Linked DNA regions of Homo sapiens: region 2 is linked to region 1. A link means that fine-mapping ties the variant in region 1 to the expression of a gene that starts in the linked region. Tissue or cell type: whole blood. Region 1 holds a variant in brackets; the other region holds the start of a gene. All regions are shown on one strand. Distances are from middle to middle.

What was found. PIP is the estimated chance that this variant, and not a neighbour inherited with it, causes the effect.
Region 2: it holds the start of EIF4E, and the variant in region 1 is fine-mapped to the expression of EIF4E in whole blood (INTERVAL, PIP 0.99).

The regions. Positions count from the first base shown.
Region 1 is chr4:98,952,527-98,957,750 of GRCh38, forward strand. It overlaps the pseudogene FAM177A1P1. Among named protein-coding and RNA genes, the nearest start is that of EIF4E, 26 kb to the left of the region's middle. The variant T/G (reference allele first, on the strand shown) is at 2,180.
Region 2 is chr4:98,926,813-98,932,036 of GRCh38, forward strand. EIF4E (eukaryotic translation initiation factor 4E) reads right to left here and starts at 2,321. Exons shown (of 7, transcript NM_001968.5): 1 at 2,283-2,321. The coding sequence starts at 2,300. RefSeq lists an enhancer at 2,715-3,914.

The sequences.
Region 1 (5,224 bases):
TCCCAAAGTTCTAGGATTACAGGCACTTACACATGAGCTACTGCACCTGGCCCTATTTATATATTTTTTTTTAATCCACCCATCTGCACACTGAGAGTGTGTGTGTGTATTTAATTATTTTTTATGCAGTTTCATGTTTTTAGATCTTAAGTTTAAATCTTTGGATTATTTAGCAATTTTTTTGGTTTAATGTGTTATATAAAAACCCTTATATAATGTGTTATATAAAAACTTTTATGTAAAAACCTGTATTTTTTCTGAACTATTATCCAATAGTACCATGATGTTTTCTTTCTTTTAGTTTGTGTACTTGTTTATTATAGTAGACTTTTTCCATGGTTCATTTATGAGCAGTTCTGTCCAAATCTGCTTTTCACCCAAAAAGTGTTGGTGAATTCTGCTTGACTGTCCACTCTCTTTTTACCTGGGAACTGTAAACTGTACCATAATATTAGAAATGGGTATATTCTCTTTGTAATAACATCTACACTATACTCTGTGATATGTAGTATGTACAAACTCACCTTCTGGAACCAGAATGTCTGATTGTGTCTGTTGCTTACCATCTGTGTGCCCTTGGACTTCTTTTTTCTCTCTCTCTCTTTTTCTTTTCTTTTTTTTTTTTTTTTTTTTTTTTGAGACAGAGTCTTGCTCTGTCACCAGGCTGGAGTGCAGTGGCGTGATCTCAGCTCACTGCAACCTCAACCTCCGCCTTTTGGGTTCAAGTGATTCATATGCCTCAGCTTTCCAAGTAGTTGGGATTACAGGCACGCACCACCACACCCAGCTAATTTTTGTATTTTTAGTAGAGATGGGGTTTCATCATGTTGGCCAGGATGGTCTCGATCTCCTGACCTCATGATCCACTTGCCTCAGCCTCCCAAAGTGCTGGGATTACAGGTGTGAGCCACTGCGCCCAGCTGCCCTTGGACTTCTGAACTTTTCTGTGGCTCAGTTTCCTTATCTGTAACAGGAGACTAGTTAGGATTGAATGAGTTAATGCTTGTAAGATGTATGAAATGGTTCCTGGTACATAGTCAAGGCTTTGTAAGTTTTAGAATTAGGATTATCCCCTTCTATGGCTTAAGAGAGAGAGGAAGAGGGCTGAAGCTATGGGAAGCTTGAGTATTTTGTGGGTCTTGGTTTCTGATTTAGAAATGAACTCAGTCTTGCTCAGAGACTGTGTTCCTAACCTCTAATGTTTTTGTCTCTCTATTTTTTCTTCAATTTAGTCCAAATTCTTCGGTATTTGAGAGATGTTTCTCAAAGTTTAAAAAAATTTTTTTAATTTTTTAATATAAAAAACTCCAAACATTAAACAAAAGCTGGAGGAATAACAATAAATCTCATTTACCCATCATCCAGTTTCATTTTTTTATGTTATTTTTATTCCATTTTTTTAGAATAGAGACGGAGTCTCACTATGTTGCCCAAGCTGGTCTTGAACTTCTGGGCTCAAGTGATCCTTCTGCTTCAGCCTCCCAAAGTGCTGGGTTTTGAAGGCATGAGTCACCATGCCCGGTCTATCATCCAGTTTTAATTGTTATTGTCTTATGGCCTTCATAGTTCTTGGTATGTTGGAAGGATTACTTGAGCCCAGCGGTTTGAGACCAGCCTGGATGATATAGAGAGACCCTATCTCAAAAAAAAAAGTTATTAGTATAAGGTTGAGAACTCTTCCCTAGTTTCCACGTAGATGGTGCTATTGTTCCTAGCACCTAGGAGAAGGAAGCTTTGTGGGTCTGTACCTATCCTTTCAGATTTCCTGTAGGTCATAAACCCAATACTTGAGCTATCATGATTTAAACACTTTTTCTTGCAACTGTAGCAGCTCATCAGGCTGTTATATCTATCTCATCCTCTTTATTTCTACTCTAATTGCCCTACTTGGACCTTCACTGCTTTTCATCTGAATTATTGCAACAGCAGCCTAATTGGCCTTCCTGTATTCAGACCTCTATATTCAGTCCACTCTTCGTACTGTCGAAAGTTTATTTTTTTTTAATATCACAAGCCTAATTATGGCACTCTGTTCTAGAAGCCAAGGAATTGCTCTCGGTTGCCTATGGAGTAAAATTCAAATGGTCTTTTTTTCCACAAGAACATGAGATGGCCCTTTTCAGCCCTTCACTAGAGTATCTTTCACTATATACCATAGTTCCTCAATTCTAACATGCCA[T/G]TGATTATAGACTATATATTATGATTATATGTCATTGATTTAGCAAAAGCTTTTGGGTCAGGGACCAAGAGGCACAATGGAACCTACGCATCAGTGATAAGATACATTGTGATTTCACAATTATGAAAATGTAGAGGCATATTAAATTATTCCTGTAATCACAGCAACAGTATTAAGGTAACAGCAATAAATGGATGGCATATTAACCTGCGTAATTATAGGAGATTTTTAGTAAGGTAATTATTTGCAGACATGGGCAAAGTTTAGGGAGCCAATAGGACATGGTATAGTATTCCCAGGCTGGCTTTAGGGTGGGTGGGGGACTGTTGCAACCGAATATCTAGGTATGAAGGCTGAGGGGAAGGAACTCTGCCAGAAACCAGAGAGAGAAGTGTACAGAGCAGGACTCTAGACAAAAGTTGCGGACTTCAGTAGAGAGAGTGAGTGAGCCATGGAAACATGGTAGGGAAGGGGCCAAAGGAATAAAGATCTCGAATACTTCACTCTCTCCCCACCCTCTTATCTCCAAGCTAGCTAAAGCCATCTCGAATCCAGAGGATAAACAAGTCCACCAATGCAGTTAAGCTTCCCAGGGCACAAAGCATTATGGAGAAGAATGGAGCACAGTGGGGAGGGAAGCCAAAGGCTAAATGGACAGTGTCAGGCACATCCTCCATTCGATTTACTCTCCATCTTATTTTATTTATTTATTTATTTATTTACTTATTTATTTATTTATTTATTCATTCGAGACAGAATCTCACTCTGTCTCCCAGGCTGGAGTACAGTGGCAAAATCTCGGCTCACTGCAATGTCTGCCTCCTGGGTTCAAGGGATTCTCCTCTCTCAGCCTCCTGAGCACCTGGGACTACAGGCGCATGCCACCACACCCGGCTAATTTTTTTTTCTTTTTTTTTTTAGTGGAGATGGGGTTTCACTGTGTTACCCAGGATGGTCTTGATCTCCTGACCTTGTGATCCGCCCACCTCAGCCTCCCAAAATCTGGGATTACAGGCGTGAGCCACCACACTCAGCCTACTCTTCATCTCAAATCACAGATTAAATCTCTACATACCTGAATATTTGCCCGCTTGCTGTTTATTTGGCCTTTGAGCTCAGCTTAATTTTCGCGTTCTCCATGAAGCCATCTCTGACTTGTTTAGTCAATTTGTCCTCTGATGTGTTCCCATAAAACGCCACTTAAAAGATTTAAACTTTAGATGGTCCAAAAGGAACCGTTGATGTCAGGACAACCATAAACCAAATTTTATCTCATGGGGAAATATGAGATTGGATGAGTGACAAAAGAGGCTTTGAAAATGTAGAACTGGGAGTGATACAAGGAAAGAAGAAAGTCCCAAGGAGAGCCATCCTCTTTGTTAGTGATGACACAATGAAGGAATACAGCACAGATGAAGATGAAGTTGATGGCCTAGAGAGGAAAGATGTTTTGCCTACTCTTGACCCAGAAGAAGAAGGAGGTGGAGGAGGTGGAGTGAAGGAAGAGGAGGAGAAAAATAGGATGTCTACAGAAGCAGAAAGACATTACCAACAGAGGAGGAGGAGGAAGAGGAGGAGAATGTCTGTATGAGCAGAAAGACAATATCAACAGAATAAGGCCAGGTGTGGTGGCTCACGCCTGTAATCCCAGCACTTTGGGAGGCTGAGGCTGGCGGATCACGAGGTCAAGAGATCGAGACCATCCTGGTCAACGTGGTGAAACCCCATCTCTACTAAAAATACAAAAATTAGCTGGGTGTGGTGGTGCGCCCCTGTAGTCCCAGCTACTTGGGAGGCTGAGGCGGAAGAATCGCTTGAACCCTGGAGGCAGAGGTTGCAGTGAGCTGAGATTGTGCCACTGCACTCCAGCCTGATGACAGAGTGAGACTCTGTCTCAAAAAAAAAAAAAAAAAAAACCCCAACAGAATAAATTGCAGACTGATTCCATTGTTCAGACAGATCAACCAGGGACAGTGGTATTCAGTTCATTTGGGAATCTCAATTTTGAAATGGAGGGAGACAGTGAAGTAATTATGGAAAGCAAACAAAATCTCGTCTCTTTTCTACTACAAAATGAAATGACTATCAAACTTCAAACCCTAAGGGTTTTATTTTTTTATACCAGGAACTTTCACATTCTCTGCTCAGTGAGACTTAATGCAATTATTTATATTTTAAATTACTTAAATAATCTGGAAAAGAGAAATGTTTCTTCATTCTTAGGCTCTATTCAGCAAAAGCCAAATCTGAAATTTGTACCATTTCTGCTGTGTGTTGAATTAGTGCTTTGGTTTAAAATGATCTTTTAAAAAAGTTAAGGATACCCTAGAGCTTCAATTGCCAATTTAAAAGTTAAATTATCAAGGTTGTCTTATTTGTGCATTTAAAAAAAAAAAATAGAGGCCAAGCGCAGTGGCTCATGTCTGTAATCCCAGCACTTTGGGAGGCCGAGGCAGGTGGATCACCAGAGGTCGCGAGTTCGAGACCAGGAGTTCGAGCCTGGCCAATGTAGCGAAACCCCGTCTCTACTAAAAATACAAACATTAGCCAGGCATGGTAGCAGGTGCCTGTAATCCCAGCTATTGGGGAGTCTGAGGCAGGAGAATAGCCTGAACCTGGGAGGCGGAGGTTGTAGTGAGCTGAGATCATGCCTCTGCACTATAGCCTGGGTGACAGAGTGAAACTCTGTTACAAAAAATAAATAAATAAAAATAGGTAAGTTGCTGATTAAGGCTAATTGGAGCTGATAATCCCACAATCTCAGATTTAAATGAGGATTTTTTTTTTCTCCTAGATTTTCTCATGTTATCCCTCATATTTATATATCTAACCATTAATTTCACACTAAGGGTGTTTTGCTGTATAATAAAAGGAGTAAGATGGGAAAAAAAGATTTAAGCTTTACACTTTCTTTTTTTTTTTTTTTTTTTTTTTTTGAGACGGAGTCTCGCTCTGTCGCCCAGGTGGGACTGCGGACTGCAGTGGCGCAATCTCGGCTCACTGCAAGCTCCGCTTCCCGGGTTCACGCCATTCTCCTGCCTCAGC
Region 2 (5,224 bases), 26 kb before region 1:
CAACACCCTGGATATATCAGGAGCTATTAATATTTACTAACTCAAAATATAGTCCTTCATCACTTTGCAGTTCCGCTCTGTGCTGCTGAAACAAAACTGCATAAACTCTGCAAAACTCAAGGGACCTAAATGTGACAGAAACCTCACAGAACTCCTTATTGTTTTATAGTTTACAGTCTCGTAGCCTTGCCCCTATTACCAGATGTAATGCTTTTTACTGACACTAGTGTAGTGGGGTAGGAACAGATCTAGACAAAAGTGGACATCAGAACCTGTCAAGGGGTTTAAAATGTATATTTTACATACTTATTCTTCATTAGTGTTATGTAATATTAATGTCCTAAAGTCAGTTAACTGTAGCAACAACTTATGAGTTTTTCAGTCAATTTAATTCCCAGGAACATAAATGAAAACTGGTGCCAATAAAAAAACAAGTAAGCAAGCAGAGAAGCTGCCTTGAATTTTGACAAGGTAAGGATAGTTTACACCAACGCAATGAAAAATAAGCCTTTGTGTAGTCTATAAGAGTTTTTGAAATAGTTTTATAAAAGTCTTTAAAAGTGCCGGGTGCTGTGGCTCACGCCTGTAATCCCAGCACTTTGGGAGGCTGAGGCGGGAGGATCACTTGAGGTCAGGAGTTTCAGACCAGCCTGGCCAACATGGTGGAACCCCGTCTCTACTAAAAATACAAAAATTAGCCAGGCACGGTTGTGCGCACCTGTAATCCCAGCTACTCAAGAGGCTGAAGCAGGAGAATCGCTTGAACCCGGAGGCGGAGGTTGCAGTGAGCCGAGATCACGCCACTGCACTCCAGCCTGGGCGACAAAGCAAGACTCCATCTCAAAAAAAAAAAAAAAAAAAAAAAAAAAAAAAAGTCTTTAAAAGTCAAAGCAAACTGGTAAACCATTAGCAAAACCACAAGCTACCATGAAAAGATACACAAAAGTATCTGGCAACCAAGGTCTAGAGCTGGTTCCAGAGTGTGAAAGGTTTTCTGATTGCTAATAAACCCCATTATGCACACAAGATATCTTCACTTAGCTGTGTCGTTTCTAAAAAGGCAACAGGGCCCAGAAGTTTCAGTGAGCCAGTCCTGGCAAACCCAAATTATGAAAAATATACCCTCTGCTTAAAGATTAACTACAAACCTACCCTGGGACCAGCTTGCTTCAGTTAAGTTTAAAATGGTGCCTAAATTGAAATGAAAGTCTGTAGCATAGATAAAGAGAAAAAAAAAGTCAAATGGAAAAGTAAATTTAAAAGTTTCTATTTCCAATAAACTGCGTCTCAGAAATCTTCCAGGAGATAAAGACTCGGAAGAACAGAGGGATTGAGACCCATTCGCATTCTCTGAGGCGTGCGCACTACGCGGAAAGGATGAATGAATGGAAGACGGGCGCGTGTGAAATGCAGCAGGTCCGGCCGGCAAGCCGACCGGCTACAGCGATCTGTAGGCCTCGCTCCTCCCCCTTCCCTCCTCCATGACAGCCCAGTCCCAAGCATGGAGGGGCGAGGACAATGTGATACCCCTTCTCACCACCACCATCCCTCATTCTACTTGGAGAGCTTCACCGTGACACACGAGTGTTCCTTCCCACCCCAGACCTTTCTCGCTTCCCCTGGCGCAAACACCGGCAACTCTCCGGCGCGCTGGATTAACAGACGCTCGCCCCTCTCAACTCCCCTAAGCGAGGTCGAAGCTCCTCCGCGCGTGCCGCGGCACCACTCCCGCCTAACCCACCCTCCGGCAACACTCGCCCACCAGCTCCCCAGTCCACCGGTCTAAGGAAGACGTGCGCGCGCCCCGCACCCGAGCCCCGGAGCTGGGGTTCTGCAGGGAGGGAAAGGCTGCTCCAGGGCTCCCTCCTCCATCTCACTCCAGGCCGGCTCGCCGCCCACCCTGCCTGCGGATCCCAGTACTCGCTGGGAGCCGGCCCTGCGCCTTCCTATCATGAAGACACCATCCTCGCATACCCAGCCCAGAACCCCAGCTACCCTCCACCCTGTAGACACCTCGCGGTTCCGCAGGAGGCGCCACGCCGCCCCTCCCCCACACCGCTCCCCCAGTTCTCGGGCCCCCACCAGAAAGTGTGCGCTACACGCCGCCTCGGCCATCCTCCGGGACGTCCCCACTTGTCCGCGGGAGGTCAGGTCCAACATGAAGGGGAAGGGGCGGCAAGGGGTACAGTGCGCGCCGGGAACGCCGTCCCGCGGAGTCCCCCAGTCAGAAGGAAGACGGAGCGCGGGGACCCGTGGGGGTGGGGGCCAAAGGCAATACTCACCGGTTCGACAGTCGCCATCTTAGATCGATCTGATCGCACAACCGCTCCAGAAGGGGGGGTAAGAGGAAAAAAATGAGATTCAAACCGGATTGGCCAGCTTCTGGCCACGTGACGGATATGTCCGTTTGGCCCTGGCGGCACCTGCGCAAGACTGCGGCTGCGTGAGTAACGAGAGGCTTCTGGGAAGTGGAGTCTCTCCCCCACCTTTTTTTTTTTTTTTTTTTTAAGGTAAAGAAATTTTTTTTAAAAAGGACTGGTCACGTGGCCGATGGGTAGGGTGCGCGGTTCTCAACGCGGCGGACACTCGCTTGCTGGAGGGTGGTTTCAGTCCTCTGCTCTTCCGCCTGGATAGCTGCGGTCACACTTACTGCCAGGCAAGCCTACTGTGCCCTTTGTCGCCCTGTCCTCCCATCTTCCCCGGAAGGTTGGGAACTGCAGGCTCAGCACACACAATAAGGCTTCATTTGCTTAGTTGAGGTCCCAGGACAAGTTGCCTGTGTGTTTATTTAGTTTTCTTTTGATCTCCCACCATTTTCTCTTAGTTTCAAAAAGAGGCGGCGATGCAGAGTCGTTTAGGCAATCAACCCTCCCACGTCCCCTGGCTCAGCTAATGCTGGTGGTCATTCGTTGCCATTTCTGCGAAAGGGGACGGACGGAACCGCCCGCAGTACCCGCTTGCCACCGGCTGGACGAGGGGGAGGGACGACAGCTTTTACTGTCCCAAATCCTGAGATTAAGACCTCAGGGCTAAATCTTGCGTGGCGGTAAAAATTATTTGGAAGTTCTGTGCAACCGTTCCAATATTCCGCTTTTACGTGCACGGAAATAGCCTAAGTCCAGATGCCAGCCAGGGAAGCCACTCCGGGCCCCGCTGACTAAGCCCTGGACTGATGGTCTGGAGTCTTTAGGCCGGGTCAACTATGACTCTTGACGTTGACTCATTCTCCTTAGGCGAGTGACTTAATCGCTCGGCGTCTCAGCTTTTTTATTTATGAACCAAAGGTGATGATACACTTACCTCACAAGGGTGTGCTTCGTAATGACTGTAACCGGCTTTGAAAATGCATCGGACTCTAGAAATGATTCATAATAAGCAACTGCGTGCCTTCCTAAAGATCAAGTGCTTCTGCTTTTTTTTTTTAGCAAAGTTTAAATTTTTTTCTGTTTACTTTGTTTGATTATGATGTACACCAGTGTAGTTTTAAATGTTCAGGACCATTTTTTTTCCTTTACAACTGCAGCTGCCCTCAATAGAGGCTTTAATGTTCATGAAATTATTGTTATGCTCACAACAATCACTGGCAATCAGAAATTTGTCCCCACACTGGCATCCTACATTTCCTTTCCCTCTAAGATACTGTGCTGTCATTTCTCAAGACCGTGTTTTTTGCACAGTTTGGCTACTAATAACAACAAATAGAGATGAAGAAATCTAGTAGACTCCTAAGGTTCTAATGAAGAAGACACTGTCTCATTACTATTTCCCATGCTTTTAAATAATGTTGACACCAGGAAAAGGAGTGTATGCAGGCTGCCTGTGCCTGTCTGCTTATAGTGTTAATGAGGTCCAGAGCTGTGTCATACCTATTATTGAGTACATAATGGATGCTTGAGTTGACTAACACATAATTGAGGCTGTATGAGAACTCAAAGCCATTGCCTGTTCATATGTTTTGGTTTACCTGAATATCAGAAGTGATTAATGAAAGCTTTTGTCTAGTGGGCTTAGCTCTACTAGGTTTTAAAGTAGATAGAATTAACAGGCCAGGCGCAGTGGCCCACGCCTGTAATCACAGCCCTTTGGGAGGCCAAGGCGGGCGGATCACCTGAGGTCAGGAGTTCGAGACCAGCCTGACCAACATGGTGAAACCCTGTCTCTACTAAAAATACAAAAATTAGCCAGGCATAGTGGCACCTGCCTGTAGTCTCAGCTACTCAGGAGGCTGAGGCAGGAGAATCACTTGAACCTGGGAGGTGGAGGTTGCAGTGAGCCAAGATCCCGCCACTGCACTCCAGTCTGGGCGACACAGTGAGACTCCATTTCCAAAAAAAAAAAAAAAATGATAATAAACGGATAAGTGGATTTCTACTTACAGAGACTATCTACTGTTACTTAGACTATCCAAAATAATTCTGTTGACCGCGTTGTTATTTTCTGCTGGTTAGAAGTGGTGTCAGGTTACCTTCTTTGAAGAGAAAAAGACAGCATAGATGTCCTATTTTCCCCTTCCCCACCCTTCCCCACCCTTCCTCTCCCTTCCCTACCCTTCCCCTCCCTTCCCTTCCCTTCTCTTCCCCTCCCCTCCCCTGTCCTCCCCTCCCCTCCCTCCCCTCCCCTCCCATTCTCTCTCTCTCTCTCTCTTCCTTCCTTCCTTCCTTCCTTCCTTCCTTCCTTCCTTTCTTTTTGTCTTTTCAGGGTGTTGCTCTGTTACCCAGGCTGGAGTGCAGTGGCATGATTATGGCTCACTGCAGCCTTGACCTTCTGGGTTCAAGGGGTCCTCCCACCTTAGCTTCCCAAGTAGCTAGGACTACAGGCATGGGCCACCATGCCTAGCTAATTTTTTTATATTTTGCAGAGACAGGAGCGTCTAGCTATGTTCCCCAGGCTGGTCTCAAACTCCTGGGCTCAAGCGGTCCCCCTACCTGGGCCTCCCAAAGTGCTGAGATTGCAGGCATGAGCCACCATTCCTGGCCAGATGTCCTATTTTCATGAAGCTGTTATATAACAGCAAAAAATCAATGAGATTGGCAAGAAAATACCTATAGGACTGAAAGCCAGTGATGTTCTTAAAACTTTTTTTAAACAACAGTTTCCATTTTTATTAAATTTTCTGTTAATCAAAAAACTCGGGCCGGGCACGGTGGCTCATGCCTGTAATCCCAGCACTTTGGGAGGCCAAGACGGGCGGATCACGAGGTCAGGAGATCGAGACCATCCTGGC